3 separate regions of the Homo sapiens genome follow, and regions 1 and 3 are each linked to region 2. The links come from fine-mapping of genetic effects on gene expression. A gene starts in region 2. Each other region holds a variant in brackets. All regions are shown on one strand. Distances are from middle to middle.

Region 1 (10,320 bases), 34 kb before region 2:
TTTTGTTCTCCAGGCAGTGGAAAGTCAGTGAAGATATTGATCTAGGAAGCACTAGGGAGAGAAGCATTCTAGCAGGATAACTTTAGAGTCACATTTACATAGACTGGAAACCAAGCAACTAGTGAAGAGACCATTGCAGCTCTCAGGCTGTTCTGAATGGTGACAGTGAGAAATGAGGGGAGGCATGGATTGCAAGGACACTATAGAGGTCAAGGACCTCAGAGATCAAGGTATGGGTTAGGGTGATGCTCTTTTACAGAGTCAGCTTAGGGAATTAGCAAGAAGCTGCTGGTATCCAAGGCCGACTATTGAATCTTTAAAACCACAGGACACCTGAACTGGCAGAGTCCTTGGAGTTCATGATTTAAGTGGAAGAGACACAGTCCCCACCTATAGGAGGAATGTCAAAACTTGAATCTGGGTGGGCTCCGCAACTGCAAAATTGCAAATCTGCAATTTGGTCCACTTCTTTTCCAGCCTTCCTTCTGAATATTTTATTCAAAATACCCTCCCTTGAGCTGAAACATCACCCAGCCTTTTAGGGCCAGCTCCCAGATTCAAGGCAGTGATGCTGCACTCCAGGAAGCATCAGCTGGGGAAGCTCAATTGGGGCAGGACGATCCACTTCCAAGATGGCTCACTTCTGTGGTTGGCAAGCTGGGGCTGGCTGTCAGCTGGGAACTCATCTGGGGCAGTTGGTGGATTTCCAATAATGTATGGTGACACTGTGCCAGTTTCTGAACCCTGGCCTTGAGACACTGACAGCCTCTACCTCTCATCTCTTGGAAAATTTACTCTTAGAACACAGCTGCCATACTGTGGGGAAGCCCAGGCAGCCCTGTGGAGAAGTCCACGTGAAGAAGTATCTTCCGGCTGATTTTTTTTTTTAAACAAAAACCAGTGGAGTCCCAAATGTGGCTGTCTAGCTATAGTTTGCCACCCTCTGCTGGATGACTGTTCCCTTTAACTATTGCTATGTGATAGGCCACTAGAAAATTTGGCAGCTGCTGGGCACAGTGCCTCATGTCTGTAATCTCAGCACTTTGGGATGCTGAGGTGGGATGATTGCTTGAGTCCAGGAGCTCAAGACCAGACTGGGCAACAGAGTGAGACCCTATCTCAACAACAACAACAAAATTTAAATTAGCTGAGTGTGGTGGCATGCGTCTGTAGTCCCATCTACTCGGCTGAGGTGGGAGGATCCCTTGAGCCCAGGAAATTGAGCTGCAGTGAGCTGTGATAGCGCTACCGCACTCCAGCCTGGCTTACAGAGAAGAGAGACAGAGAGAGAGAGAGAGAGAGAGAGAAGGGAGGAAGGGAGGAAAGGAGGAGGGAAGGAAGGAAGGAAGGAAAGAAAGAAGAAGGAAATGTAGCAGCTTAAAATGACAGTTTTAACAGTCCTTGCCATGGTCAGGAAAAAAGAATAACAAAAATACAAATAAAAACAAAAAGCAAAAAAACCCAACAGCAATCATTTACTTTGCCCATGAACTGCCTATTTCTATTTATTTGAACACAGCAGTGCCCACTTGCTCATGTACTGTCTTTGGCTGCTTTTGGGCAGCAGTGGTGGAGTTGAATGTTCATGACCGAGACCATATGGCCCACAAAGCTTAACATATTCACTATCTGGCAATTTACAGAAAACGTTTGCTGACCCTCATCCAGTGCATTAGAAAGAGGCCGAAGGAGAAGAAAGCACTTGCTCAAAGGCTGCACACAAGTCTACACATAGAATCCAGACAGAAACTCAGAATTCTCTAATCCCAGTCTTGTGCTATTTACCCCATCTAGTAAGACTTATTAACCACCTCTGTAAATCTGCAAGTTTAAAGATGATAGAGGTCACAGCTCCTGCCTGAGAGAGGATACATAACCAGCAGGGAAGACATGCAGATAAAGAAATGACCACCTAGAAAAATCTGTAATAGAAGTGAGCTCAGCACATGACAGAAACAAGAGCAAGTGCTTTTCACTCCTGCCGCAGTGGCTGGGAAGAGCTCCTGCGTGCCTTCCCAGCATCTCGCCTCCTTCTAATAACAGCATCCTAATTCTCCCTGAAGAAGCCACTCTGTCATGTCAGTTTCTGCGGTCTGAGTGAGGCACACCTCATGGTTCGGCTCCAGGCCTGGCCACTGTGCTCTGTTCAGGGATGTCCAGATGTCACAAGCCTGCCCCTGAGAGTCCACCCTCAGACTTTGGCTGGCTCTTCTGGGACAAAGAAGAATTCTTTCCCTGCAGTAGCTAAGCCGGAACCATTGGTGGCCACCTGTGTTGCCACTTTGTGAGGGCCTGGCCAAGACGGAAGTTCTCACAGAGGAAAGCAGAACCAGGGGCTGCAGAGAGACTCTGTAAGACACAGAGTCACTCTGAGCTCTTCCATGACGCCAGTAAATCTCCTTTTCTCCTTCAACCGCCAAGAGTTGGGACTCTGTCATTGTAACTCAACAGTTCCAACCAACATTGTTCTTTTCCTAGCAACCGCCACCCAACTCACTTGTGAATCTTTCCCTCCTCCAATCCCATCTCGGCTGCCTGCTTTCTGCATCAGCATCCTCCATTTAGGAATGCAAATTTCAGAAACCTATCATGCCTGAGGCACGCCTGAAAGGAGTGGAGCCAAGTCTGATAATGAATTTGTGTGCACTGTGTGAGCCGTTCTGCAGCTATTCAAAATCCATTCAATGTTTTTCTCTAGCGATTGTAAGTACACTGTTCTTGGTATTGCCTCTGTCACCAGCTAAATGATGGAGATATTTCCACTCAGGATCTCGATAGACTTGTGGCTCTGGCAACAGATGTGTGTGAACTGATGCACTTGGAACACCTGGAAGCAGGAGGTCGGCTGCTCTTGGAGGACCTGCTGAAGTCTGGACCCCATTGTTCTTCTTTTCTTTTCTGTTCTTTTCCTTTCTTTTGAGGTGGGGGCTGCCTCCTGGAATGGGCATCTCCACTGTGGCCAGGGGGCAACTGGGAAAGAGGTGGTCAGCAGCACCTTGACCTTGAGTGGGCCCAGATCTTAGATCTCCAGCCCCTGCTACTTTATTTCTCCTTCTCCCTCTTCTACAGAGATGGGGTCTCACTATGTTGTCCAGGCTAGAGTGCAGTGGCTATTCACAGGCACAATCTCTGCTGCTTTAGAATGTCCTGGAGAGCTTTCTGAAAGTCCAAGTTCCAGTCTCTATCCCTGCAAGACTCTGAATCAGTAGGTCTGGGGAAAGCAATTCTGATTTTACAAAGCTCCACATTTCTTTTTAAAAAAATATCGATGGGGTCTCACTATGTTGCCCAGGCTGGTCTCAAACTCCTAGGCTCAAGCAATCCTCCTGCCTCAGCCTCCCAAAGTGCTGGGACTACAGGTGTGAGCCTGGCCAAAGCTCTTCACTTCTAAAGGGCAGCCATGCTGCAGAATCCCATCAGCATGAAATGTCCAGAGGCCAGTGTCCTTCCTTTTCCAAGGGGCCCTCTCGTTTGTCCCCCAAGGCACCTCTCCTCCTAGTCTCTAAGGCCCCTCACTGGGACCCTTCCCCTCCATGGCTTGCCTAGGGTTACCTTTGTGGAGTCAGAGGTTGTTAGGGAGGAATATGTAGAACCACTGACCTAGTGCAACCCCTTAACTTTCTATTAAGGAAACCAACGGAGGACCAGGGAGGCCAAATGAGTTTCCCAAGATCACATAACAAATCCAGGGCTTACCGACCAGGGTGCACACCTTGGGAGCTGGAAAACTGTCCCGGGCCTGCTCTCACACAACAATGTGTGGGTTGTTTTTTGTTTGTTTGTTTGTTTTTGTATTTTTTAAATTTCATTAATTATTATTATTATTTTTTTTTTTTGAGACAGGGTCTTGCTTTGTTGCCTGGGCTAGAGTGCAGTGGTCCAACCACACAGCTCACAGCAGCCTCAGCCTTCCAGGCTCAAGCAATCCCTCCCCCTTCAGCCTCCCAAGTAGCTGGGATAATGGGCACAGGCCACCAAGTCCGGCTAATTAAAAAAAAAAAATTTTTTTTTGTAGAGATGGGGCAGAGGAGGGGGTCTCCCTGTGTTTCCCAGGCTGGTCTCAAACTCCTGGCCTCAAGCGATCCTCCCACCTTGGCCTCCCAAAGTACTGGGATTACAGGCGTAAGCCACTGCACCCAGCCTCACACACTCTGAATTATGTGGGGTGGGGTCCTAACTAACTCACTGAGCCTCCCAAGCCAAACTCAACCGCAGCTATTCTCCATCCCAAAAGTGGGAAGGAGCTGCCTATTGAGGGAGAGGTGGGCCTTCTTCCCATTCTCCATCTTCACCTACAAGCTATCCACTATGCAGGGGCTGCTTGGAGTTTTAACACTGATCCAGTAGCTCACCTGGCTCTTGCCTAAGTAAATTACCTTTCTCCCTTGGGGTTGGGGAGGTGTGGGTCTGGGTGGTGGGCACTGGCTTTACCTCCAGCTCAGCTCCTTCTCTTTGGTCCCGCCTCCCAGGGTTTTATGTGTCCATATAACCACTGACTCAGGGTCAGCTTTTTCCAGTCTAGTGC[G/A]TCAGCACAAGTGAGTGATAGAGCCTGAAGGCCATTACTCAGGGGAGGATGGTGGTGAGTCATCACGAGAGACTCCTTCCCTAGTCTGGCCACTCTGCTCCAAGCTGTGCTGGGAGACAGAGAATAATAACACCTTTTGGACTGGCCTTTTAAAAATAGAAACAATGGAGTCTGTGGCTTTAGGAGGAGAGGTCCTGGGAGTCAGAAGCTCAGTCCTGCTAGCTTGTCATTCCTTGGAGGATGCTGGCTACTACTTTGCCCACCGGTAATTGAGGGTGTTGCCCTTGGCCATTTGGGGTGGGCTTTCTGAGTCTTTTAGAGGTTGCAGAATCTTACATGTGCTATAAACCAAGGACACACCCTACCCAAAATTTATATACACATTCATGCAAAATGTGTCATGCAATCTCAGGGTTTCATGGAACCCGCTGACACCCAGTCATGGGCTCCTGGCAATGAATTCCTGATCTCTGGGCTCTATTTGTCTAATAATTCTATGAAATATGTTTCTTCCAAATTCTATACTCCCCACACCCTCCATAAAATCATTTTTTAAAACATTTTTTTGTCTTCATTTATTTAAGAAACATTTATTGAGTGCTACCCACTCCTGTGGAAAAGTCCAGTATTGCTGGGAGAGAGAAAAGAGGAAAGGCCTCCACCTGGGGTGTCTGCAAGAAGGGCACGGACATTGGAGGTGCAGATGCACTGAAGAACTGATGGGCAAGCAAGATAGATGGTCAAGGTTGGCACTCAGAGGGGTGACCGTTACCCGCCCCTCCACCCCTTTCCCCGGCTTGTTGTAAGGGCAAGATCCTTCCCTCAACTCCAGAAATGAGTCATCATGTGTCTATGCCAGCCCTGGCAATCCCATTCCCCTTTTTGAGTGTTTCCAACCCCAGTTTTGGACAAAGAGACCTAAGGGAAGTCAGTGTGCGACCCTCAATTCCTAGAAAAAAGACAGAGCCTCAGAAAGAAAAGGCTTTTGGGCTGGATTACAGGTGGCTCACACCTTTAATCCCAGCACTTTGGGAGGCCAAGGCAGGTGGATCACTTGAAGTCAGGAGTTCGAGGCTAGCCTGGCCAATGTGGTGAAACCCCATCTCTATTAAAAAAAAAAAAAAAAAAGAAAGAAGAAAAAGAAGAAAGAAAAGACTTTTGGACCATGCCTGTTCTTTCTGCTTTGGAAGGTTGGTAGCAGAGTTTATGCCTAATTGCTATCTTGTGACTTTGAGATGACAAGTGTGAACATGAAAAACTAACAGCTTAGGCGGAGCCAAAAGATAGGAAGAAACTGGGCTGTTGATCCCAGTGCTCATCACCTCTGAGCGGCCCTGCATCCTCTGGCTCCTAGTCTTCTAGGAGACATAATAAGGTCTATTTCATTTAAGCCACTATTGGATGGGTTTTGTAACTTTTAGCCAAAACCATTGGTCACTGATTCAGGTGAACAGTCCCAGAAGTACGGGGTATGCACAAAGGACTGATGGATTTCTAAGCAACAGGACCATTGTGGTGACACGTCAATCAAGTCACCCACCTGATAGTATTCCCTTCTCAGAGCATGCGTATTCTCACAAGGCTTACTGAGAAAAAATGAAATTGGTCCACACCTTTCCCAAAAAATATTAGAGGTCATTGGCCAGTGGGTAGTACGGTGTTCATCCAGGGATACCCCTTTGTCTTTTCCCTAAGGCCAAGACAGACATAGGGCTCAAACTGGGGTGTCTGCAAGAAAGGACACTGGTAGTCTGTTCCACCGTTGGACATCTGTTTAGCCAGCTGATTTGCAAAACTTCTCATCTACTACTTGAGCTGGGGAAAATACTTACGAAATGGCATGGCGGAGGCTGATCAGGTAGAGAGGGTGCCAGAAAGGTCACCTTGAATTCTTACTCCCTAGGAATTAAAAAAGATGAACTCCACACCTTCACATAAAATACACTGTGAATGGTGCCTGAGGAGGTGGGCAAACATGGTGGTCCTGTTGCACTTCAAGGGAAGAGCTGGGAAGTCCATGGCCGAGTATCACCACCTCTAATGTTGAAGGGGATGGTAATACTCAGTCTGGCATCTGTTACTAAGATCTGTCCCCAGACCATTTGTCTTCTAGAGGGGGTTACAATTAAAACTTGATGGACTGTCTCTGATTCCCATGACACCAACTAGGTGTACAACAATCCGATCCTATTCTGACATCGACTAACCAGAATTAGTGTCAGACTCCATAGGTTTAAGGGCTCAGTGCCACAAGACAGCCCTCACTTGGGACGCCAGCCATAAGTCCTGGGTTTCTGGGCTACCTGCACTTTTGTCCAATTTGGCTACAAATTCAGAAATCCCCATGGCCCATGCCTGCTTCAGGTACTATAATTTGCTAGAATGACTCACAGAACTCAGGAAAATACTATACCTACAGTTTATTATAAAGGATACGAATGAACAGCTAGATGAAGAGGGGCATAGGGTAAAGTCTGGAAGGGTCCCGAGTTCAGGAGCCTCTGTCCCTGTGGAGTCAGGGTGCACCACCCTCTCCATCCATGGATGTGTTCATCAACTCAGAAGCTCTGAAACCCTTCTGTCTCCTTTGGGGGATTTTATGGCAATTTCATTACATAGGCATGGTTGATTAAATCATTGGCTATTGGTGATTGAGCTGAAACTCCTGCCCCTGTCCCCTCCCCAGTGGGACTGGATGTTGCATCCCTGTAATCACATGATTGATTCCTCTGATGACCAGCCCCATCCTGAAGTCATCTAGGTGCCCAACAAGATTGACCTTATTCACATACACTTTCATATATGGCTGGAGACAGATAAGGACCCAAAGTCTCCTTTGAGTAACAAAAGACACTCCTTTCACTCAAAAAATGTCAAAGGATTTAGGAGCTCCTTGTCAAAAACCAGGGACAGGACAAGGACCAAATTATATATATATATATATATATATATATATATATACACACACACAATACCACAGTGTGTTTCACCAATTATTGATTAAGAAGTGTTAACTTTTGGAGTATAAATAGGGTTACTAGGACCCTTCTGAGGACGAAAAAGGATGCATAAACCAGGAGTGTCCTGGGCAAATTAGAGTGTGTGGTCCCCTTAATATAGAAATTGCTTCCCCTCTTTCAGTAGGTGCACTAACTAACACATACCTCCCCTGTTTCCCTGCCCCCCCCCCGCCCCCACTTTGCCTTTCCCATTGAATAATGAGTTCCATGATGTCATCTTGGTAAGGTTCCTTAATTTACCTTCACTTTTGGTCAGAGGTATCCAATTAAGGTGCCACAGCACACTGAACTATTAAGGTGCAGGACAGATGGAGAAATAAATCCCTTAACCCTCTGAGTAGCCTGGGTAGGGCCTGGGGCTGTCAGAGCTCTTGGCCAGTTGCCTTGGCCGAGTGGTCAACAAATGTCATCCTTTTCTTTGAGATTTGGAAGCACTGTTTTAGGCTGTTAGTAAAATCTCATTTTGACATTTATGATACAATTCTGTTTGTTCAATTATTTCACTTCAATTCCAAATGCAATTAAAACTCTTTTTCTCCTCTTTTGTGTTATGAGCTAGGAACAGGAGCTCCCTCTGGGTGGACAGAGAATGTGATGGCTTTGGCAGGCAGAGTAAGCATTGGATCTCAGCCCCTGTCCACATCTCAGCTGCGAACCCTTGTGCTAGGCACAAAACATTCATGGTCCTATGGGCACACTCCACAGAATACACACCACAGAAGATGCCATGTAAACACTGTCCCTGGAGTTGTGCAGTGCCATTACCCTGGGCTGCTTCCTCTCCTAAGAGCTGACTGTGCTGCAAATAGTCAGTTCCACTATAAGATGACTTATGTGTTCCTGAAAATCATTGTGCTATATAAAATTGTGTGATTAAAAATCACAGGGTAGGCCAGGTGTGGTGGCTCATGCCTGCCATCCCAGCACTTTGGGAGGCTGAGGCAGGTGGATCAGCTCAGGTCAGCAGTTCAAGACCAACCTGGACAACAAGATGAATCCCCATCTGTACTAAAAATACGAAATCAACCAGGCATTGTGCACACCTGTAGTCCCAGCTACTTGGGAGGCTGAGACACAAGAATCTCTTGAACCCAGGAGGCGGAGGCTGTAGTGAGCCAAGATTGTGCCACTGCACTCCAGCCTAGGCAACAGAACAAGACTCTGTCTCAAAGTAAAATAAAATAAAATAAAATAAAATAAAATAAAATAAAATAAAATAAAATCATAGGGCTTATGGAAAAATGGAGTTAAGGCACACTCAAAAGCATTGTCAGTGACACATTAAAAGAAAGTTAGGAAACTAATAAAAATGGTAGCACAGTCTCACACATATTAGATGGTTAAGAAAGACATAAACGCCATACTATTGTTTGAATGTGTCCCCCAAATTTCATGTGTTGGAAACTGAATCCCCAAATGCAGCACTGTTGAGAAGTGGCACATTTTAGAGGTGATTAGGTCATGATGGCACTGCCCTAATGAATAGATTAATGCTATTATCACGGGACTGGGTTAGTTATTGTGGGAGTGGGTTCCTGATAAAAAGGATGAGTTCAGCGCCCTTCCCTTCTTTCTCTCTCTTTTTCACTCATGTGCTCTCTTGCCCTTCAGCATTTCACCATGGCATGATGCGGCATGAAGGCCCTTGCTAGAAGCCAGTGCCATTCTCTTGGACTTCCCAGCCTCCAGAACCGTGAGCCAAATAAATTTCTGTTGATTATAAATTACCCAGTTGGTGGTATTCTGTTGTAGCAACACAAAACGGACTAAGACACACTACAATAAATGTGGCAGTTTATCTTGAATAAAACCTGAAGTTTAAAGTTCAAGAAAGAGTGACAGCTTGTGAGATACTGTGCAGTGGCAGAAGTGTTACCAGAATGGAATCCCAATCCAGACCCCAAGAGAGGGTTCTTGGACCTTGTGCAAGAAACAATTTGGGGTGAGTCCATATAGTAAAGTAAAAGCAAGTTTATTAGAGAAGTAAAGAAACAAAAGAATGGTTACTACATAAGCAGAGCAGCCCCAAGGGCTGCTGGTTGGCTGTTTTTAATCATTATTTCTTAATTATATGCTAAACAAGGGATGGATTATTCATGAGTTTTCCAGGAAAGGGGTGGGAAATTCCCGGAACTGAGGGTTCCTCCCCTTTTTAGGTCATACAGACTAACTTCCTTTTTTTTTTTTTGACATGGAGTCTCCCTCTGTCACCCAGGCTAGAGTGCAGTGGCGTGATCTCAGCTCACTGCAAGCTCCGCCTCCTAGGTTCACACCATTCTCCTGCCTCAGCCTCCTGAGTAGCTGGGACTACAGGCGCCCGCCACCACACTTGGCTAATTTTTTGTATTTTTAGTGGAGACGGGGTTTGACCGTGTTAACCAGGATGGTCTCAATCTCCTGACCTCGTGATCCACCCACCTTGGCCTCCCAAAGTGCTGGGATTACAGGCGTGAGCCACCGTGCCCAGCCATAGGGACTAACTTCCTGATGTTGCCATGGCATTTGTAAACTGTCATGGCACTGGTGGGAGTGTCTCTTAGTAGTATAATAAGTGTATAATGAGCAGTGAGGACAACCAGAGGTCACTTTCATGGTCATTTTGGTTTTGGTGGGATTTGGCTAGATTCTCTACCACATGCTGTTTTCAAGCAAGGTCTTTGTGACCTGTGGCAACTTCCTATGTCATCCTGTGACTAAGAATGCCTAACCTCCTGGAAATGCAGCCCAGTATGTCTCAGCCTTATTTTACCCAGCCCCATATTCAAGATGGAGTCA
Region 2 (10,166 bases):
ATTAGCCAGATGTGATGGTTTACACTTGTAATCCCAGCTACTTGGGAGGCTAAGGCATGAGAATTGCTTGAATCTGTGAGGTGGAGGTTGCAGTGAGCAGAGATCACGCCACAGCACTCCAGCCTGGGTGACAGAGCAAGACTCTGTCTTAAAAATTAAAAAATAAATAAATTAATTTAAAAAATAAAATTAAAAAGATGCTCCTTCTGGGTCAAATGGTCCGGGTATGGGCTGGAATTTAGCCCAGTCTTGCCTCCTTATGCAGTAAACAGCCTATCCCACCATTTGCAGTGGCACTGCAGAGTCTCTGGAAGGAGTCCCCTTGTCTAAGGTGACCTTTCATTGACCAGATACACTAGGTCATTTCTTATCTTCTGTGGTGAAGTCCCCAAAAGCCAGTGGGAACTCGACCCCTGCTGGTGTCCAGGTTTTGTCACTGTCATGAGAAGGAATTCAAGGACTAGCAGAAAAATAGTGAAAGTACTGAGATTTATTGCAAAGTGCAGAGTACACACTCAAGAAAGGGAGGTGCAGGTGTTCTCAAGACAGAGAGCTATGCCATCGGGTTTGGGGTTTCTATCTTTATGGGTTTCCTTAGCCAAGGGGCAGAATATTCATGAAGGTTCCTGGAAAAAGGTGAAGATTTCTCAGAACTGTTGCTGCCCATTTTTTTTTTTTTTTTTTTTGAGACGGAGTCTCGCTCTGTCACCCAGGCTGGAGTGTAGTGGCGCGATCTCGTCTCACTGCAAGCTCCGCCTCCCGGGTTCACGCCATTCTCCTGCCTCAGCCTCCCGAGTAGCTGGGACTACAGGCGCCTGCCACCACGCCCGGCTAATGTTTTGTATTTTTAGTAGAGACGGGGTTTCACCATTCACAGGATGGTCTCGATCTCCTGACCTTGTGATCCCCCCACCTCGGCCTCCCAAAGTGCTGGGATTACAGGCATGAGCCACCGCGCCCAGCCTTGTTGCCGCCCATTTTTACACCAAATATGGGTGTTCCTGGGACTGTCCAGGTGCTGGTGGGTGTATGATTTGGTATGTTAATGAGCGTATAATGAGGTCCTAGGAGAAACCTAGGTCAAATTCAGCCCCAGATTGGGTCCAGTCGAACTTAGCCAGCTTGGCCTATACTCTGATTTTTCAGGGTTTTATCAACCCCTAGCTTATGCATCCATTTCAAAAGTTGCCTTTTATTAGTCATATGAATCTGCTGCCTAGAATTTTCCTTTTTTTTTTTTTTGAGACTGAGTCTTACTCTTTTGCCCAGGCTAGAGTGCACTGGCATGATCTCGGCTCACTGCAACCTCCGTCTCCCAGATTCAAGTGATTCTCTTGCCTCGCCCCACTAGTAGCTGGGATTACGGGCACATGCCACCATGCCCAGCTAATTTTTGTATTTTTAGTAGAGACGAGGTTTCGCTATGTTGGCCAGGCTGGCCTCGAACACCTGACCTCAGTTTATCCACCCTCCTCGGCCTCCCAAAGTGCTGGGATTACAGGCATGAACCACCGTCCCCAGCCTGCCTAGAATCTTCTATTCTCCTGCCACTGCCCTGTATTATTCTTGTGTCAACATGGGGTCCAGATATCTAAATTCTTGTGAGCAGTGAGTACATTGTAAGCTAGTTACATGTGTTAACTGATTTAATCCTCACAATAACATTATTATACTATTATTAGCTTCATTTTTTTTTTTTTTGAGACAGGGTCTCACTTTGTCACCCAGGCTAGAGTACAATGGCGTGATCACAGCTCACTGCAGCCCTCAACTCCTAGGCTCAAGCAATCCTTCTGCCTCAGCCTCTGGAGTACCTGGGACCACAGGCATGTGCCACCATGCCTGGCTAATTTTTTGAATTTTTTGTAGAGAAGAGGTCTCACTATGTTGCCCAGGCTGGTCTTAAACTTCTGGGCTCAAGCTATCCACCCACCTTGGCCGGCTAACTTCATTTTTAACATACGAGGAGTTGAACCCACAGAGTGGTTCCATTTGCTAAATTACAGGGCTAGGGATTTGAACTCGGGCCACCTGGCTTTCTTACCCAAGGTAGTGAGAGGCTCCACCTACCTTAGTTCTAGCTGAGCTGGGGTGTGTGAAGAACACCCTTGCTGCTTCTCCTTGTTTCCAGCCTGTGTTTGAATAACTACTTCTCAGAATGGAAACACTCCTTTCTTTGATATGCTAATACATTCCTTGGTCAGGGCAGCAAGGCCTGAGATCCACTCTGTTTCCTTCAGACGACTGTCTGAATCTACCCTACTGGCTCAAAACTTTCTCTCAGAGGGCAATGGCTTCACCTTTATTTCCTAGTTATTGTGGGACACCTCCCCAGGGTACATGAGTTCTGACAACAAACACCCACTCAGATCATCGGAAAATCCAAACCAGTCTAAAAATTTCAGAGGCGGGATTGTCTGATTTTTTTCTCTTTACACAATAAACTTTTGAAATGCTACAAGCAAAAAGAATTCTGGAATTTGTAGATATTTAGATGGTTTGAGGGACTGGACTGTTAGAGGAACCCTAATGTGAAGGCTTTTGTTAAGTGGAGCACCACATTTGTAATTCAAACAATCACCCCCTAGCCAGATAAAAATAACAGCTTCCATTTCCTGGCTCTTACTGCAGACTAGAAATTGCAAGGGCTTTACATCTGTCATCATCTCTCTCTAATAACACCTTTATAGAGGTATAATTCACATACTGTACTTTTAAAGTATGCAATTCAGTGTTGCTTTTTTTTTTTTTTTCTTTGGAGAAGGAGTTTCGCTCTTGTTGCCCAGGCTGGAGTGCAATGGTGTGATCTCGGCTCACTGCAACCTCCGCCTCCCAGGTTAAAGCCATTCTCTTGCCTCAGCCTCCCAAGTAGCTGGGATTACAGGTATGCACCACCATGCCCACCTAATTTTGTATTTTTAGTAGAGATGGGGTTTCTCCATGTTGGTCAGGCTGATCTCAAACTCCCGACCTCAGGTGATCCACCCGACTCAGACTCCCAAGGTGCTGGGATTACAGGTGTGAGCCACCGTGCCCGGCCGGGTTTGTTTTTGTTTTTGTTTACTGTATATTCACAAGGGTATGAAACTGTCACCACTAATTCCAGAATGTTTCCATCACCCGAAAAAGAAAACCCATGCCAATTAGCAGTCACTCCCCCATTCCTCTCCCCTCAGCCCCTGGTTAACCACTAATCTATTTTCTGTGTCTATTTGCCTATTCTGGATTGTTCCTATAAACGGAACTGTATAATATGTAGTCTTTTGTGCCTGGCTTTTTTCATTTAGCATATTACCAAGTTTCATCCACGTTGTAGCTTTATTTCCTTTTTATAACCAAATACTATTCTATTGTATGAATATGCTACATTTTATCTACTCATCAGTAGATGGACATTTGGGTTGTTTCCAGTTTTGGGGTACCATCATCTCTTTTAATCTTCATGCCACCTCTAGAAGTGTGTATTGCTGTCTTCCATTGATTGACTGAGTGAACTGTGGTTTCTTTCTTTTGTTCTCCTTTTGTTTATACAGATGGGGCCTCCCTGCATTGCCCATGCTGGAGTGCAGTGGCCATTTACAGGGGCAATCATAGTGCACTACAGCCTCTAATTCCTGGCATCAAGGGATCCTTCTGCTTCAGCCTCCCGAGTAGCTGGGTCTACAGGCATGTGCCACCATGCCCAGCTAATTTTTGTATTGCTAGTAGAGATGGGGTTTCACCATGTTGGCCAGGCTGGTCTGGAACTCCTTACCTTGTGATCCACCCGCCTCAGCCTCCCAAAGTGCTAGGATTACAGGTGTGAGCCACCACGCCCAGCCTTTATTTCTTTATTAAAATGTACTTTAACTGGCTGGTCGGGGTGGCTCACACCTGTAATCCCAGCACTTTGGAAGGCCGAAGCTGGTGGATCACGAGGTCAGGAGTTTAAGACCAGCTTGGCCAAGATGGGGAAACCCCATCTCTACTAAAACTACAAAAAAAATTAGCCAGGCACAGTGGTAGGCACCTGTAATCCCAGGTACTCGAGAGGCTGAGGCAGGAGAATCGCTTGAACCCGGGAGGCGGAGGTTGCAGTGAGCCGAAATCGCGCCACTGCACTCCAGCCTGGGCTACAGAATATCTAAAGAAAAAAAAAAAAAGAAAAAAGAAAAAGAAATAAGGTACATTTGCAGAAGTATAATCACTAACTCTGTCAGATGTTATCTTATGTGTAAAAGAGGCAAGGATTAGTGTAATTTATCCTTTAAGGAATATAGTAACTCAGGCAGGAGACATGTGGGCCCATGTGCTCTATTCTGTTTTATCTTCAAAACTCTTTCCAGTCCTGTTTCTCACATCAGAAAAGGATAGAAATTCTGTTCTTTCCAACCCCACCACGTCAATCAAATGAAAATGTCCTGAGCCATGAATCCAGCTCCTGGAGTGAAGAATCTTTGTATCAAGAAAAATTCTGGCATTATTTTATGTTCTCAGCACTCAGTGGACTCTAAGAGGTCACCTGGTCCTTTCCTCAGCCCAGAGGATTCCGGCAGAAAAGCAGTAGCTCAGAGGTTTTACTCTGCAGCCCTGACTGGATTCAAATACCCTGTCTGTGTGTTAATAGGGGCATGACTTTTGGCTCAGAGACTTTGCGACTCTCTGAGCTTCAGTTTGGTCAATATAAAATGGAATTAGTAACAGTATCAAAGTTAATGTGAGGAGTGAGTGAAGCGATGACAAGGGCCCGTCATACTGTAAACTCAAACCATGGCTTCCTATTTCCCTATTCACGGTGGATGGGGAGATGTCTCCGTGCCAAGTTGACCCCCTCCCCAACTCCGCACACGCTGGTCCTTTTCCCCTAATCATCTCCCACCGCCTCCATCCCCCACTATCCTTTCCTGGGTAACTTCTTATTCTTCAGATCTTATTTTATTTTTTGAGAATTTTTATTATTTATTTACTTATTTATTTTTGAGATGGAGTCTGCTCTGTCACCCAGGCTGGAGTGTAGTGACACGATCTCGGCTCACTGCAACCTCAGCTCCCAGGTTCAGGCGATTCTCCTACCTCAGCCTCCTGAGTAGCTGGGATTACAGGCGCGCGCCACCATGCCCGGATTTTTGTATTTTTAGTAGAGACCAGGTTTCACCACATTGGTCAGGCTGGTCTCAAATTCCTGATCTCGTGATCCGCCGGCCTCAGCCTCCCAAAGTGCTGGGATTATAGGCGTGAGCCACCGCGATTGGCCTATTTTAATTTTTTAATTTTAATTTTTTTGAGACAGTCTTGCTCTGTCGCCCTGGCTGCAGTGCAGCGTCACGATCTCGGCTCACTGCAGCCTCCGCCTCCCGGGTTCAAGCGATTCTCGTGCCTCAGCCTACTGAGTAGCTGCGATTACAGGCGCGCGCCACCACGCCCGGCTAATTTTTGTATTTTTAGTAAAGACGGGGTTTCACCACGTCGGCCAGGCTGGTCTCGAACTCCTCACCTGAAGTGATCCACCCGCCTCGGCCTCTCAAAGTGCTGGGATTACAGGCTCGTGAGCCACTGCGCCTGGCCTTCAGATCTTAAACACCACTTCCTTGGTACAGCATTCAGAGACACCTCCATATTCCTCTCCCCTTACTAAAGGTTCCTTCTTACGGCACCCTGCATTTTTCCTTCATGACTTTATCACAGTTTGTAATTGTCTATTTATTTTAATTAATCTGTCTGTGTCCATAAACTGTGAGCTCCGCCGGGACCTTGTTTGCCCTGCTCTCTGCTATGTCCTCAATATCAACAGTGGACTAGGATCACAGCAGGCTTTCATCAAATATTTATGGGAAACAGTCCAGTCCATTCCTGAACTCGGGTTCAGAAAAGGATAGCGACCTGTCCAAAATCACACAGGTTAGCGGCAGACTTGATCCCGAGTCTCCTAACTGGCAACCCAAGACTCTATCCCCGGAACTGGCAAGAATCTTCCTGAACTACCCCGATAAAATTTTGAGTGCCAAAGAAAGTCCCAGAAAGGGAGTGAGTAGAGCAGTGTGGAGAGTAGGAGGAAAGTGATTTGACTTGGCCCCTCCTCTCTTGACGTTGAGCATACTGCAAACAGACACTATACGTGGCAGGGCGGCTACAGAGTGAACCAGCGACAGGGTAGCCATTAAAAGAGGCCAGGGAGCGGACAGAGGAGTAGAGGGCAGTACTGCGCAGTAGACTGCACAGGCGCAGTCGAGGAGCTCCGCTCCTTTCTCCTCAGCCCCGCCCCGCCCCATTTCTGCCGAATCACAGAAGTTCAAGAGCGGTCAGCTGATGCTACGCTGTGCGGTCACGTGACAACGGGGGCGAAGCGCAGGCGCAAGGAGCAAGCGCAGATTGTGGGCGGCTGTGTCAGCTGACCCAAGGGGCCTTCGAGGTGCCTTAGGCCGCTTGCCTTGCTCTCAGAATCGCTGCCGCCATGGCTAGTCAGTCTCAGGGGATTCAGCAGCTGCTGCAGGCCGAGAAGCGGGCAGCCGAGAAGGTGTCCGAGGCCCGCAAAAGTGAGTTTCAGGGTGGGGCTGCCCGGCGTGGCGCGAGTCGAAGAAAGACCGCTGGGCCTCAGGTGGTGGGTAGATTAGGCCCGAAAAACTGCGGGGTGCGGGCGTGCGTATAGTCGCGGAAGGTTGTGTGTTTCGAAGCTTTGAGGAGCTGAGGCTCTGGAAGGCTTGCGGATCGCCTGGAAGCCACGATGTGAGATGGTAAATTGGGCGTGGAAACAATAATGGGTTACCGTCCTTGGGGCCTGGAGGCATGTGAAATGGGCTCTCCAAACGGAGCTCTTTGTTCTTCTTCTCTCCCACTTAACCGCTCTGGGGTGGTCAGTCTCGGTGAAGGGAGCCAGCATCCACACAGTTGCTTGGTCTAGAAACCTGGAGTCCTGCTTGCCTCTTCTCCCTCCCTCATTTAGTCAGTCGCCAAGGCTTGCGTATCTTTCACTTTTTCCCCCATGTCTACTACCAGCGTCTTAGTCCAGGACACCAGTTTCTCTAAAGGTACTGTAGTTGTCTAAATCGTTGGCGTGTGTGCGTGTGTGTGTTTCTGATATGTGGCAAGCGCAGTGTGTGTGTGTTTCTAACATGTGGCAAGCGCAGTGTGTGTGTGTGTGTGTGTGTGTGTGTGTTTCTGTCTAATATGTGGCAAGCGCAGTGCCCAGTGCATCAGTTGTCTCCCCTAACGTGGCATTCAGTGTCGCAGTGAAGGAAGCAGGTATTGGGTCAGTTAATTAATTGCAGGAGAGATGAGGGCTGGAGTGGAGAAATGTAAGGTTGCTAAAGAATTTAACAGGTGAGTTTAATCTAGACTGGGGAGTGGAAGAACCCGTTCTGGTCCCCTCCAGTCAATCCATTCTCCTCTCTGCAATCAGTCATCCTTCTAAAATGCAAATATGTGACTTCCTGCTGGTAAGGAACAAAATAAATAAATAAGTGCAGATATGATTTCCCTACCGCCTTTGTAGTCAGACGTTTAGTTCCTGCAGAAGAAAGCTCAAATTCCTTAATGAAGTTGGGGAGGCTCTTGTGGGTCAGGCCTGGTGCTTTCCTCCAGCTATACTGAATCGTTGTGGTCCCTCAGAAGCAGCATGATGTCTTTCACCTGCAGGTTTTTGCACACGCTGTTTCTTCTGACGTGAGAAGCCTTTTCCAATTCTCCTCCCCTTTGTTCTCTGACCCTTAGTCTTCCATCAGACCTCAATTTAGGAAACACTTCTTCCCGGGAAGCCTTTCCTGACTCATGCTTGTCCCCCGGACTAGGCTTGGAGTCCCTCCCAAGTGCTGATTTCTGCCACTGCCGTGCAATAACCTGTTTGTTTATATGGCTCAGTCACTAGACTAAGCTTCTGGAGAACAGAAACTATGTCTCATTTAACTTTATGTATCCAGTTTCCCGTCTGGTGAGAAAGATGCTTCTATCCCTATTTTACAGATAGTAAAAATGAGGCTCAGAGAGAAATGATTTATCCATACCCTGGGAAGCAACATAGTTGGGACTCAGAAGCCTCTTTTTCCATGCAAGGCGAAGATACTGATCTTAGTAATTCCTTGGTGTTTCTCCTAGTATAGGAGTTATTCTATCTGACATCCAACTAGATTTCAAGCATGTCTCCTCTACTTGTGCAGTTAGGGGTTGTGTGGTACTTGGAAAGCTTTCTTTGAGGGTGTTGGGAATGAGAAGAAGCCTTTTGTTCTTGCTCCGGTGACTGGAAAGTTCTTTGTTCTTCCCAGAATATTTCCAGTCATGCCCTTGATAGTGTATTTCCAGAATGACTTCTCACAGTTTGTGTTCTGATGGCTCATCAGTAACAGAAGTTGTATCTGTCGGGAGGGATAGGAGAATAGATTGGGGAAGTGCAGGAAAAAATGCTTGGAATAGGTAAGAATAATTCTGAGTGCCCTAGCCAGGTAGGATTTATGTTTTATACCTTTATCCTGTCAAGCCTGGTGCAGGGTTTTGTATATGTCAGGTAGCTGTGAATTGGTTTTAAAAAGTATTAATTTGGCTGGGCGTGGTGGCTCACGCCTGTAATCCCAGCACTTTGGGAGGCTGAGGTGGGTGGATCACCTGAGATCAAGAGTTTGAGACCAGCCTGGGCAATATGGAGAAACTCCGTGTCTACTAAAAATACAAAAGTTAGCTGGGCGTGGTGGTGTGCGCGTGTAGTCCCAGCTACTTGGGAGGCTGAGACAGGAGAAACGCTTGAACCCAGGAGGCAGAGGTTGCAGTGAGCGGAGATCTGTCCCACAGCACTCCAGCCTTGGGGACAGAGGGAGACGCCGTCTCAAAAAAAAAAAAAAACAAAAAACAAACCAAAGTATTAGTTTATGGCTTACATACTTCTCAGATTTTTTTTTTTTTTTTTGAGACAGAGTCTCACTCTGTCACTCAGGCTAGAGTGCAGTGGCACCATCTTGGCTCACTGCATCCTCCACCTCCAGAGTTCGAGATTTTGTGCCTCAGGCTCCCAAGTAGCTGGGATTACAGGTGCCTACCACCATGCCCATCTCTACTAAAAATACAAAAACATATAAATTAATACATAAATAAAAAAATAAATTTTTGTATTTTTAGTAGAGACAGTGTTTTACTATGTCGGCCGGGTTCTTCTCAAACTCTCGGCCTCCCAAAGTGCTGGGATTACAGATATGAGCGACTGCGCCTTGCCTGTCTCAGAATTGTTAATAGTTAGGAACAGAGAGGTAGTCAGAAGAACTGCAGTTTGAAAATTTGCCTTTCTTGATTTATAATTATGGTTGATTTGCCCAGTTAAGAGTTGGGAAGAGGCAGTATATAAAATGATCCCATCCAGTTTTTTTAATGAAATCATTGAGTTGGACCTTAAATTTTTTTTATTATTTTTTATTTTATTTTATATATTTTGTTTATTTATTTTTTTGAGATGGATTCTCGCTCTGTCGCCCCCAGGCAGGAGGGCAGTGGCGTGATCTCGGCTCACTACAATCTCTGCCTCCCAGGTTCAAGCGATTCTTCTGCCTCAGCCGCCCGAGTAGCTGGGACTACAGGTGCCTGCCACCATGCCCGGCTAGTTTTTGTGTTTTTAGTAGAGACAGGGTTTCACCATAGTGGCCAGGTTGGTCTCGAACTCCTGACCTTGTGATCTGCTCACCTTGGCCTCTCAAAGTGCTGGGATTACAGGCGTGAGCCAGCGCGCCCGGCGTGGACCTTAAAATTTTAAAAAAGTTTGTGTTAATGGCATATTTCATTGGAGTGAAACAAAACACTGGCTCCCATATGTAAGGCCCAAGAAGAACAAGATTTAAGAGAAATACGATTTTCTGTTTAAATATTTTTGATTTTTAGAGGCCCCTGTCAAAATTGAATGTTGAAGATGTTTGCCAAAGGCAGTAAATGGTATTATCCTGAGTTATAAATGCAGGGAGCCATGGGAGTTGGGAGGTGATGTCTTGTGAAATCATGCGGAGCTACTGCATAATGTTCAGGCCATGAGTGTTATTTATAGATTGTTGGTTTCGAAAGTATCTTTAGCTTTGAAATACAGCCCATTATAGCTGATGGGAAGATAGCATGTGAAGGATTGGGGTACAGGTGGCCGAAGCAGACAGTAGTAGGCCAGAAATAATACTGGAGTGAATGTGGACTTGCAGAAATAGTTCTTGGAGTTTTGAGAGAGAGACCTG
Region 3 (10,320 bases), 44 kb after region 2:
TATGAATTCATTAGATAATGATGCAGTACCTTCAAGCATAGTGATTTGAGGCCAGGCTTCACAGACCTGTGGAACTGGATGCAGATCTAGCTCCGATGCTCACTACCTGTGTGACTTTAGGAAGGTGATTTAACCTTTCTGAGCCTCAGTTTTATCATCTGTAAATGTGGATAATATTGATCCCTATTACAAGGGGTTTTTGTTAAGATTAAATGCAATAATGCTTGAGGAACCCTGGCATTGTCTCTAGTATATAGTAAATGCTCAATACATTGTAGCTATTATTGTTATGAAGTACCTATATGTATGGGTTTTACTCTCTTCCCAAAGCCCCCAACATGATCAGGCCTTTCCTGTGCTAGCCAAGGCCAAGGAGGATTAAGGATTAATTATGAATAGGGTAGATATACTGCTAATTTTAGCCTGAAGATTTTAGAATTTACTTCTTCTTCTTTTTTTTTTTTTTTTTTCAAGATAGAGTGTTGCTCTGTTGCCCAGGCTGGAGTGCAGTGGCGCAATCTGGGCTCACTGCAACCTGTGCTTCCTGGGTTCAAGTGATTCTGATGCCTCAGCCTCCCAAGTAGCTGGAACTACAAGCATGCACCACGGCTGGCTAATTTTTGTATTTTTTAGTAGAGACGGGGTTTCACCATGTTGGCCAGGCTGGTCTCGAACTCCTGACTTCAAGTGATCCACCCGCCTCGGCCTCCCAAAGTGCTGGGATTATAGGTATGAGCCACCACGCCTGGCAGATTGGGTTTTCTTATGGGTGAACAGTTTACGTATTGTTCTACCGTGTTCCTAAATATAATTTTTTTCAATTCAATTCAATTAATTAATTAATTAATTTTTTGAGACAGAGTCTTGCTCTGTGGCCCAGGCTGGAGTACAGTGGTGTGATCTCGGCTCACTGCAACCTCTGCCTCCCGGCTTCAAGCAATTCTCCTGCCTCAGCCTCCCGAGTAGCTGGGATTACAGGCACGTGCCACCATGCCCAGCTAATTTTTGTATTTTTAGCAGGAACAGGGTTTCACCATGTTGGCCAGGCTGGTCTCAAACTCCTGATCTCGTGATCCGCCCGCCTTGACCTCCCAAAGTGCGGGGATTACAGGTGTGAGCCACCGTGCCTGGCATTCTTTTTTATTTTTATAAAAAGAGACAGGGTCTTGCTATGTTGCCCAGCCTGGTCTTGAACTCCTAGGCTCAAGCAGTCCACCTGCCTTGGTCTCCCAAAGTGCTGGGATTACAGGTGTGAGACACTGCACCTGGCCTAAATATCATTTTAATGGTTAAGTTCTGTTTTCTTAGTTCTACTCTCACGGGGCCTTTATATTCTATAGACGCTTTTGTTTGGGCAGGAAGATGTGAGTGTTCAGTCTTTTGGACAGCATTAATAGATATTGATATTGCAGTATTGATAGTGGCAACTCTATATTGAGTGCTCACTGAGGGACTGGCCCTTTGCTCAGCACTGTACATGTATTATTTAATATGTACCTTAGTTCTACAAAGTGGGTACTTTTATTATCCTTATTTTACAGAGGAAAAAACAGGCTCAGAGGAGTGGGGTTACTTGCTCCAGGTCACACAGCACATGAGTGGCAGGGCCAGAGTTTGGGCCCAGGGCTGTCTGACTCCAGGGCCTATGCCTTAACCATCAGGCTGCCCTGTGTCTGCTGCAAGGTACTGAGTCTGAGGCTGTGTGGATCCTTCTCCAGATGTCATGATGCCTGTTCTTCCCTGAGCTGAGAGCTGCACCATGTGACTTCCACCCAGTGCTCCAAGCTCCTCATTCTGCCTTTGGGACAGCCCAGAATGTGCCTAATCCCCCTTCCACATGATAGTCACATGCACTGGAAACTGGCTGTCCTGCGGCTGATTGATCTCTTTCCCTGGGTTCCAAGCAGGTCCCGGCTGACCAGTACAGGAGCTTGGCTGAGAGTGCCCTCTTGGAGCCCCAAGTGAGAAGATATATCATCTACAACTCGAGGCCTATGCGGCTGGCCTTTGCTGTGGTAAGGGGGAGGTGGCCCGCACACTGACCCTGCCCTGACAGCTTATGGCACCACCAAATTCAGCACCGTGTCTTGGAGCCTGTTGGTGTGGGTCAGGGGCTTGGGGGCTGTTGGCCCAGGTGCCTGGAAACGAGCAGTACATATGGACATTGATTTGGGATCAGAGGAAATTTATGGGAGAGAGTTGTAACCAGGTCGTTGCATAAAGGATGGGAGTCAGGGTTTACTGTGGGCAGAGCTTGGGATTGGGAGTCTGCAGATCCACCCAGGCTCTGGGCTCAATATCTGGCCTTGGCCAAGACTTTCCTCCTCTCCGGAACTTGGTTTCCCCATCTGCTCAACAGATGGGTTATTTCAGCTCTATTCATATATACATGTACATATATATGTGTGTATACACATATGTATATATATATAAAATATATGTATACATCTTCATATTGATACATATAAACACTTACATACATAAATGACAGAGCCAGGATTTGAACCCAGGCAGTCTGGTTTCAGCGTCTGTGCTTGGAACCACTGTGATTTGCTGCTGTTTTGTATGTATAAATGGTCAAATAGCACACCTGACTCCCAGGTCCCACTTCTAGGGAGAAGGGAAAAGGGTGGGAACCAGCATTGATTCATTCCCTGGTGAGTGCTGGGCTGTTACTTATGTTGCCTTGTTAACCCTTATTACAATGCCGTGAAATAGGTGTTATTATCCCCATTTTACAGATGAGGAAACTGAGACTTAGGGGAGTTATAAATTGTCCAAAGCCATATAGTGCTTGAAGGATCATTATGGTCTTTGAACTGATATTTGTCTCACTTCAGATCCACCTGCCTTTTTCTGTTTTATTTAAAATTAAGGTAAACAAGGATTAGGAGTAGCTACTAACCCTTTTTGTCTACTTTTGCTTATAAACAAGGAACATTAGCTCATTCTCACAGATCCAGGTGACTGCATCAATCTCTTACTGGTGCTGTGAGCTGTCTGAATCCAAGGAGGGTATCAGTAGTGTCTGAAAGGTGTCCCTTTGAATGGAGCTGCTTTATGCAAGGACTGAAGTTCCTGACCATGCTCTCTGTCTGGCATCTTGCAGGTTTTCTATGTGGTGGTGTGGGCCAATATCTACTCTACCAGTCAGATGTTTGCCTTGGGGAACCACTGGGCTGGCATGCTGCTCGTGACCCTGGCCGCGGTGAGCCTGACCTTGACTCTTGTGCTGGTCTTTGAAAGACACCAGAAGAAGGTGAGATGTCTGGAGATCCCTGCCACACTCTCTCCAGAAGAGCGGTGCAGGCGTGAGAATCAGATTTTTCCCTTTTGCCTCCCTCAAAGAATTTCCCTGGCCATGAAAATTCACACTAGCCCGTAAGCCCAGTGACTAAAAGAAATCAAATTGTGTATGTGATTGTTCTCTCTGCTTTTCCTGTCTAATCCCTGTGGATTGTTTTTCTGGAAGCAAGCTGTGTTTTGGGAATGTGAGAGGAGAGCAGTAATTGCCCGTATCCTGACAGTACTTTAGTTAACTGAGCCCTCTCATGCACTTCCTCTCCCTGGGTGCTCACAACAGCCCTATGAACAAGGGAGGATTACTGAACCCACCCTGCAGCACAGGGTGCCTAAAGTTGACGTCTGGGGAGAGGTAATTTACATTATTCCCTCCTGTGACGGGCAGATGCCGACCTGGTGCTCTATTGACAGTCATGTCTCTAATCCCAGCAATGACCTTTGAGGCAAGGTGGGTGGTCCGAGAGTTTAGGTAACTTGTCCTGGATCCCACTGTTAGTGACAGAGCCAGGGTTCAAACCCTGAGCCCTCTGGTTCCTGATCATGTTCCGAAAGGAGGTGGATACCTCCCAGCTTGATGTATGATTTTAATTGTTTTCTGTCTCTTCAGTGTCTGTCTTTTGATATGTACTGAGCACATCATATGTAGTAGGTCCTCTGTTAAATGCTTACACATTAACTCATTAAATCCTTCGACATTAAATCTGGGTAGAGGCTGTTACACTCACTTTGCAGTCGAGGAACCCTAGACTCAGGCTCATAGAGTAGCCCTGGCCATGCTGCTAATAAATGCCAGAGTTGGAAATCAAGGCCAGGGCCTCAGATTCCAAGCCATGTTCTTAGCCACAACGCTAGAGAAAACTGTTGGTTTTCCAAAGCTGCTGTAACAAATTACCATGAACTTATTGGATTAAAACAACACCAATTTATTATCTTCCAGTTCTGTAGGTTAGATATTTGACATAGGTCTCACTGGACTAAAATCTAGGTACAGGCAGGGCTGCTTCCTTCTGAAGGCTCTGGGGGAGAATCTGTTTTCTTGCCTGTTTAGCTCCTAGTGGTCCTCTGCATTCCTTGGCTCGTGATCCTTTTCTTCATCTTCAAAGCCAGCAATGGCAGATCCAATCTTTTTCACATCTCCTTCTCTGGCTCTTTTGCCTCCCTCTTCTACTTTTAAGGACCCTTGTGATTACATTGGGCCAGCTGGATAATCTGAGATAATCTCCTAATTTTAAGGTCAGCTGATTAACAACATAAATTTCATCGGTGGCTTTAACTCCCCTTTGCTGTGTAACAACATTTGCACTGGTTTTGGCGAATAGGATTTAGACATCTTTGGGGACCATTTCTCTGCTACCACACCTATGTTGTCTTTCCACCTACTTGGGAAGCTCTTGTTCCTCCATCCCCCGATCCCTGGCACAGTGCTGGACTCTGATCTTGCCTGACTCAGAAAGAGGGGGCAGGATGTTGGGAAATGTAAATCAGCATTTGGGGTGTGAATTCCACTTAGTGCGTGTGTTCACGAGACAAACGGGAACTATATGGTGTACTCATTCTGTAAGGATCTTTGTTGGGCTTTGCCACAAGACTGACAAAATAATGCTGCCCTTGGGGTCTGTTGAAGCTTTCATGGCCCTTGTGTTTGGCCTATAAAACAAATCGAGCTGGCTACTCCTGCAGCAAGAACTTTGTCTTGGGGAGGGGAAGAAGCAAAGTGTTTTGTTTTAGTTAGCAGGAGCAAGCAAAAAAGATTGGCACCTGACAGGTGCTTCGAGGATGTGGATGTAATTCACATGGTGGAGGGAATGCCTGCTTTGGCTCTCTGCCTCTGTCTCTTCTTTCCTCCTTTTATTCAGCTGGTATTTATGAAGCCCTTGATAGTACCAGGACATACCTTGTCAGGGCCGCACAGCCAGGAAACAGCAGAGCTGGGCT[C/T]TGGCCCAGGACTGACACTATTGAATTTACTGTTCCAACAATATATATCTATCCATCCATCCATCCATCCATCCATCCATCCATCCAAGACAGGTCTTACTCTGTGCCAGGCACAGATCCCAGAAAATGCGCAAGGCTTGTGTGCAGCATGGAGGTCTCAGGTGCATCCTGGCAATGCCATCATCACTGTCTGCTCATTTAGGAGACTCCTTATTTTCTTCCTAATAATGTCCATCATTTCATGAGCACCTATTGTATGCTGTATGCTTGGGGCTTCACGTCTATGCCCAACAACAACCTTATAAGGAGGCAGGATACCGCCGCCATTTGCTAGCTCTGCAACTTGGGGTGAGTTACTTAATCTATCAGGGCCTCAGTTTCCTCATCTAAAACATGAGATAATAATTGTAGCTCCCTCATAGGGTTATTGTGAGAATTAAATGACTTAGACACACAAAGTGTTTATAATAGTACCTGGTGTAAAGTAAATGCTTTGTAAGTATTAACTGTTATTAACTCTGTTTGCCAGTGAGGAAACGGAAGTTCAGAGAGGTTAAGTAACCAGTCCATGGCCACACAGCCCTTCTCAGGTCTTCTTTTGGGTCTCAGCTCCAGGACCTCCTCCTCCCTGGATCCCTTGTCACTCAGGACTATGCAGATCCCCTCTTCCTGACCATTGTCACTCTTACTGTTAGCATCCTCTCTGTTGTTACTTGATGTCTTTGAGAGCATCAATGTCTGGCATAACTGTCTTGTTTTCCCTTTGGCTCACTGTTAGCCTTTCTCAGGATTGGAAGATTTGGGCCGGGCATGGTGGCTCACACTTATAATCCCAGTACTTTGGGAGGCTCAGGTGGGAGGATCACTTGGGCCCAGGAGTTTGAGACCAGGCTAGGCAACATTGTGAGACTCTGTCTCTACAAAAAATAAAATCAGCGGGGTGTGGTGGCACATGCCCATAGTCCTGGGAGGCTGAGGTGGGAGGATTGCTTGAGCCTAGGAGTTCAAGGCTGCAGTGAGCTCTGATGGCAACATTATACTCCAGCCTGCCTCAAAAAAAAAAAAAAAAAAAAAAAAGATTGGCTGGTTTGTAAAGGCAGGCAAGTCCTGGCACATTGCTAGGACACATGAGAAGTTCCAAGTTCCTACAAATATTTGCGGCTAATATGGCACAGTGAAAACACAATGATTTAAGTTCACTGTCATCCTCACTGTGATATTATCAGCTGACATGTGTTAAGTGTTCAATTCTTTCAATTATTCTACATGGATTAACTCATTTCATCCTTATTATACTCCTCTGAGGTAGGGGCATTATTATCTCCATTTGGGGGTAAGGAGATGGAGGCACAGAGATGTTTAGTAATTTGCCCAAGGTTATATGGGCAGTGAGAGGTACGTTAGGAATTGAACTATTGGTGATACAGATTTCTAGAAGGAAGAAATCCACATCAAATCCAAATCCACATCCAAATCTTCTTACTACAGATCTAGGCAAAACAAAATATAATTATTCCTCAATTTTCATAGTAGAGGCATTCCTGGAAAATTCAGTGTACATTAAACTCATGCAAACAATCACGTTAAGTGGCTGGGCGTGATGGCTCATGTCTGTAATCCCAGCACTTTGGGAGGCTGAGGTGGGAGAATTGCTTGAACCTAGGAGTTTGAGACCAGCCTGGGCAACATAGTGAGACTCGATCTCTACAAAAAATTTAAAAGTTAGCTGAGTGTGGTGGCATGCATGTGTGGTCCCAGCTGCTTGGGAGGCTGAGGTAGGAAGATCTGAGCTCAGGAGGTCAAGCCTGCAGTGAGCTGTGATCGTACCACTGCATTCCAACCTGGGTGACAGAGCGAGACTAGGTCTCCAAAAAAAAAAAAAAAAAAATCACTTTAGGTATAAATGTAAACTGGAGTTAGGTTGGCTGACCAGAGAATTCTAAGTAGATTTTTTTTTATCTGCATGTATGCTCAGTGGGACATTTGGAATCCAGGCAGCCCAGGGGACAGTCTTGAACATGCAGAATGGTTTCTAATAGGACATGTCTTTCAGTGGAAGGCATGGGTTCAGAACCCCTGGCCCTCATCCACTAAGTGCCAGCACTGTCCATCCCATCCCTGTGACAACCAAAGGGTCCTCCTTGCATTTCCAAAATCTCCCTTACAGGGTGCTGCCCCTTTTGAGAACTATTATTCTTGATCAGGCTGCTCTCTTCTAACTGAGTCTGAAAGTCCTCTTGTGCTTACTTCCCCAAACCAGCATTTGGGGTCCTCTTGTCCCTCCTCTTCTCCCCCACCTGTTTAGCATCCACTCTCCCAGCTGAATGCGTGGCGTCCATTGGTTTGGGTAGGAGAGCAGGAGGCTGATTCCCAGAGCCCCACCTGAGGGCCAGGCGCTGTGTTAGGTACTTTAAAGTAGGTGCTTTCTAGATGGAGTGAGTGCTTCACTTACACAACAGATTTGATGTGTCAGCTCAAACAGATCAAACCCATTTGATCTCCCATCTTCCGCAAATATCTTATGAACCTTGACAGAGTCCCAGGCCCTGGGTTAAGTACTTTACACACAATCTCAGTGAAATCTCACTCCATTCCTAGGAGGCAGACACATTCTTTTATTCTACAACTGAAGAAAATAAGGTTCAGGGAAGGGACATACCTTGTCCAGGGCCATATAGCTAGGAAGCAGCAGAGCTGGGCTTTATCCCAGGGCTGTCTGACACTATTGAATTTACTGTTCCAACTATCCCCCATCTCATTTTATTTTTCTTCCCTTATTTTTAAGAGATAGAGTCTCACTCTGTCACCTAGGCTGGAGTGCAGTGGCACAATCATAGCTTACTATAACCTCACACTCCTGGGCTCAAGTGATCCTCTCGCCTCACCCTCCCAAGTAGTTGGGACTACAGGTGGATGCTAACATGCCTAGTTAATTTTTTTTTTTTTTTTTGAGACAGAGTCTCACTCTGTTGCCCAGGCTGGAGTGCAGTGGCGTGATCTCTGTGCACTGCAACCTCTGCCTCCTGGGTTCAAGCAATTCTCCTGTCTCAGCCTCCCGAGTAGCTGGGACTACAGGTGTGTGTCACCACGCCCAGCTAATTTTTGTATTATTAGTAGAGAAGGGGTTTCACCATGTTGGCCAGGCTGGTCTCGAACTCCTGACCTTGTGATCCACCTGCCTCGGCCTCCCAAAGTGCTGGGATTACAGGCGTGAACCACCGCGCCTGGCCCCACGTAGTTAATTTTTAAACAATTTTTTATAGAGACGGCATCTCGCTACATTGTCCAGGCTGGCCTCAAACCCCTGGCTTCAAGAAATTCTCCTGCCTTAGTCTCTCAAAACACTGGGATTACAGGCATGAGTCACTGTGACTGCCTCCACCCCCGACCATTTAATAGGGGAGGAAATGGGACAGTCCTGAGGGTGGGGATTGTCCCTTGGCATCTGGGGGTGGGATGGTGTGTTTCTACTGCCCAGAGCCTGGGAGCTCCCCAGTAGCATGGAGGTCTGGTGATGGGCCTGGCGTTTGTCTTACAGGCCAACACCAACACGGACCTGAGGCTGGCAGCTGCCAATGGAGCCCTCCTGAGACACCGGGTGCTGCTGGGGGTGACAGACACAGTGGAAGGATGCCAGAGTGTGATTCAGGTGCTGTGTCTCATAGTTACCTCTTCCTGATGGCCCAGTTTTATGTTGGGCTAATGGAGAGCAGTGGCCTCATGTTCTCCCAGCCTACACAGTGTTTGCAGTAGTCTGCTAATGAGATGGCTGTTGGCAGCCCTTTCCTTCCTCCCTGCCCTGGTGTTTCTTCCTCAAGACACCTTCTCTGTGCAGTAACCAGTGGCCTGGAACCTCCACGTGGCAGGGCTGGAAGGGAAGCACAGATAATGTCCACACCTTGCTGCTCACCTGGCATTTATTCAGCAGACGGAGCCTCCTCTGTGCTGTGCCCTCGGTTGGACACTGGCGACATTGAGGGGCCCATGCAAGGTCCCTGTCCTGGCAGAGGATGACAGGCATACAGTGAGACAGTCAACAGTAGCCTCTCTGGCCTTATAGCAAACGGACAGCCCCCAACAAGGCTGAGAGGCAAGGTACACAGGGTCCCTTTGAAGGGCTGCATGGAGCTCACCATGGCTGGGGCTATACCAGAGTGACACAGCGGGGAGAGATGAGGCCGGAGAGGCAGGTCAGATGCTGAAGGCCTTGTTTGCCTGGCTTGGTCATTCTCTTTGCCCCGAAGGTTGGGGGGAGATCTGAAAGTGACTAGTATGGCGTGGCAGGGTGGGTCAGAACACAGTTAGGCCAGATCTCCTGATCCTGGCTGAACTCTCCTGTTCCTCCATCCATGCCTGATCTGCCCAGTGGAATTGCAAAACCTCCTTGGCACCACATCTGCATTCTCACCAGTCATGGCCCCTTGCCTGGTGGGAGCCCAGAGGTAGGTGTGCACGGGGGACCTGGGAAGAGGCTCCTCATGCACCTGCCTCAGTTCCTCCACGAATGTTTATTGAGAGCCTATTGTGTACCAGGCACTGTCCCAGGGATTGAGGCTGCAGCAGAGAACACATGCAGGTCCCTATGTTTGTGGAGCCTATCACACCCAAGATGGTGTAGGTATAAGATGATCTTGCCTATCATTGGAGTGAAGCAGATGACATCACAAGATTCTCGGCAGTTCAAGTGTGACATTGTAGACTGGGAGCTCCTGGAATGTGGGGGTCCTTTTTAGCCTCGTTTATCTTTGAATCTCCTTTATCCGTTGGCACGTAGGAGTGGCTTGACATGTGTTAGATGAATGCACGGATGGATAGATGACTAAAGAATGGGCTGGGCGTGGTGGCTCACATCTGTAATCCCAGCACTTTGGGAGGCTGAGGCGGATGGATTGCCTGAGCTCAGGAGTTCGAAACCAGCCTGGGCAACGTGGTGAAACCCCGTCTCTACTAAAAATATAAAAAAATTAGCAGGGCGTGGCAGTGTGCGCCTGTAGTCCCAGCTACTTGGGAGGCTGAGGCAGGAGAATCACTTGAACCCGGGAGGCAGAGGTTGCAGTGAGCTGAGATTGTGCCATTGCACTC

Direction of the effects. Alleles are on the strand shown, and positions count from the first base shown. SD is a standard deviation of normalised expression in the study named. Not every link is listed here.
For the expression in macrophages of the gene that starts at base 6,361 in region 2, allele A in region 1 goes with a lower level than allele G (moderate effect, 0.74 SD a copy in Nedelec 2016).

Evidence for each region. PIP is the estimated chance that this variant, and not a neighbour inherited with it, causes the effect.
Region 1: its variant is fine-mapped to the expression of ATP6V1G1 in macrophages (Nedelec 2016, PIP 0.95).
Region 3: its variant is fine-mapped to the expression of ATP6V1G1 in lung (TOPMed, PIP 0.97).

What each region holds. Positions count from the first base shown.
Region 1 is chr9:114,547,574-114,557,893 of GRCh38, forward strand. No RefSeq gene overlaps it. Among named protein-coding and RNA genes, the nearest start is that of ATP6V1G1, 35 kb to the right of the region's middle. The variant G/A (reference allele first, on the strand shown) is at 4,526.
Region 2 is chr9:114,581,409-114,591,574 of GRCh38, forward strand. It overlaps ATP6V1G1 (ATPase H+ transporting V1 subunit G1), which reads left to right and starts at 6,361. Exons shown (of 3, transcript NM_004888.4): 1 at 6,361-6,512. The coding sequence starts at 6,431. RefSeq lists enhancers at 1,804-2,308, 4,820-5,639, 5,640-6,458, 6,097-6,176, 6,287-6,796.
Region 3 is chr9:114,624,992-114,635,311 of GRCh38, forward strand. It overlaps TMEM268 (transmembrane protein 268), which reads left to right. Exons shown (of 9, transcript NM_153045.4): 4 at 1,908-2,015; 5 at 3,110-3,259; 6 at 8,777-8,887. Among named protein-coding and RNA genes, the nearest start is that of TMEM268, 19 kb to the left of the region's middle. The variant C/T (reference allele first, on the strand shown) is at 5,239.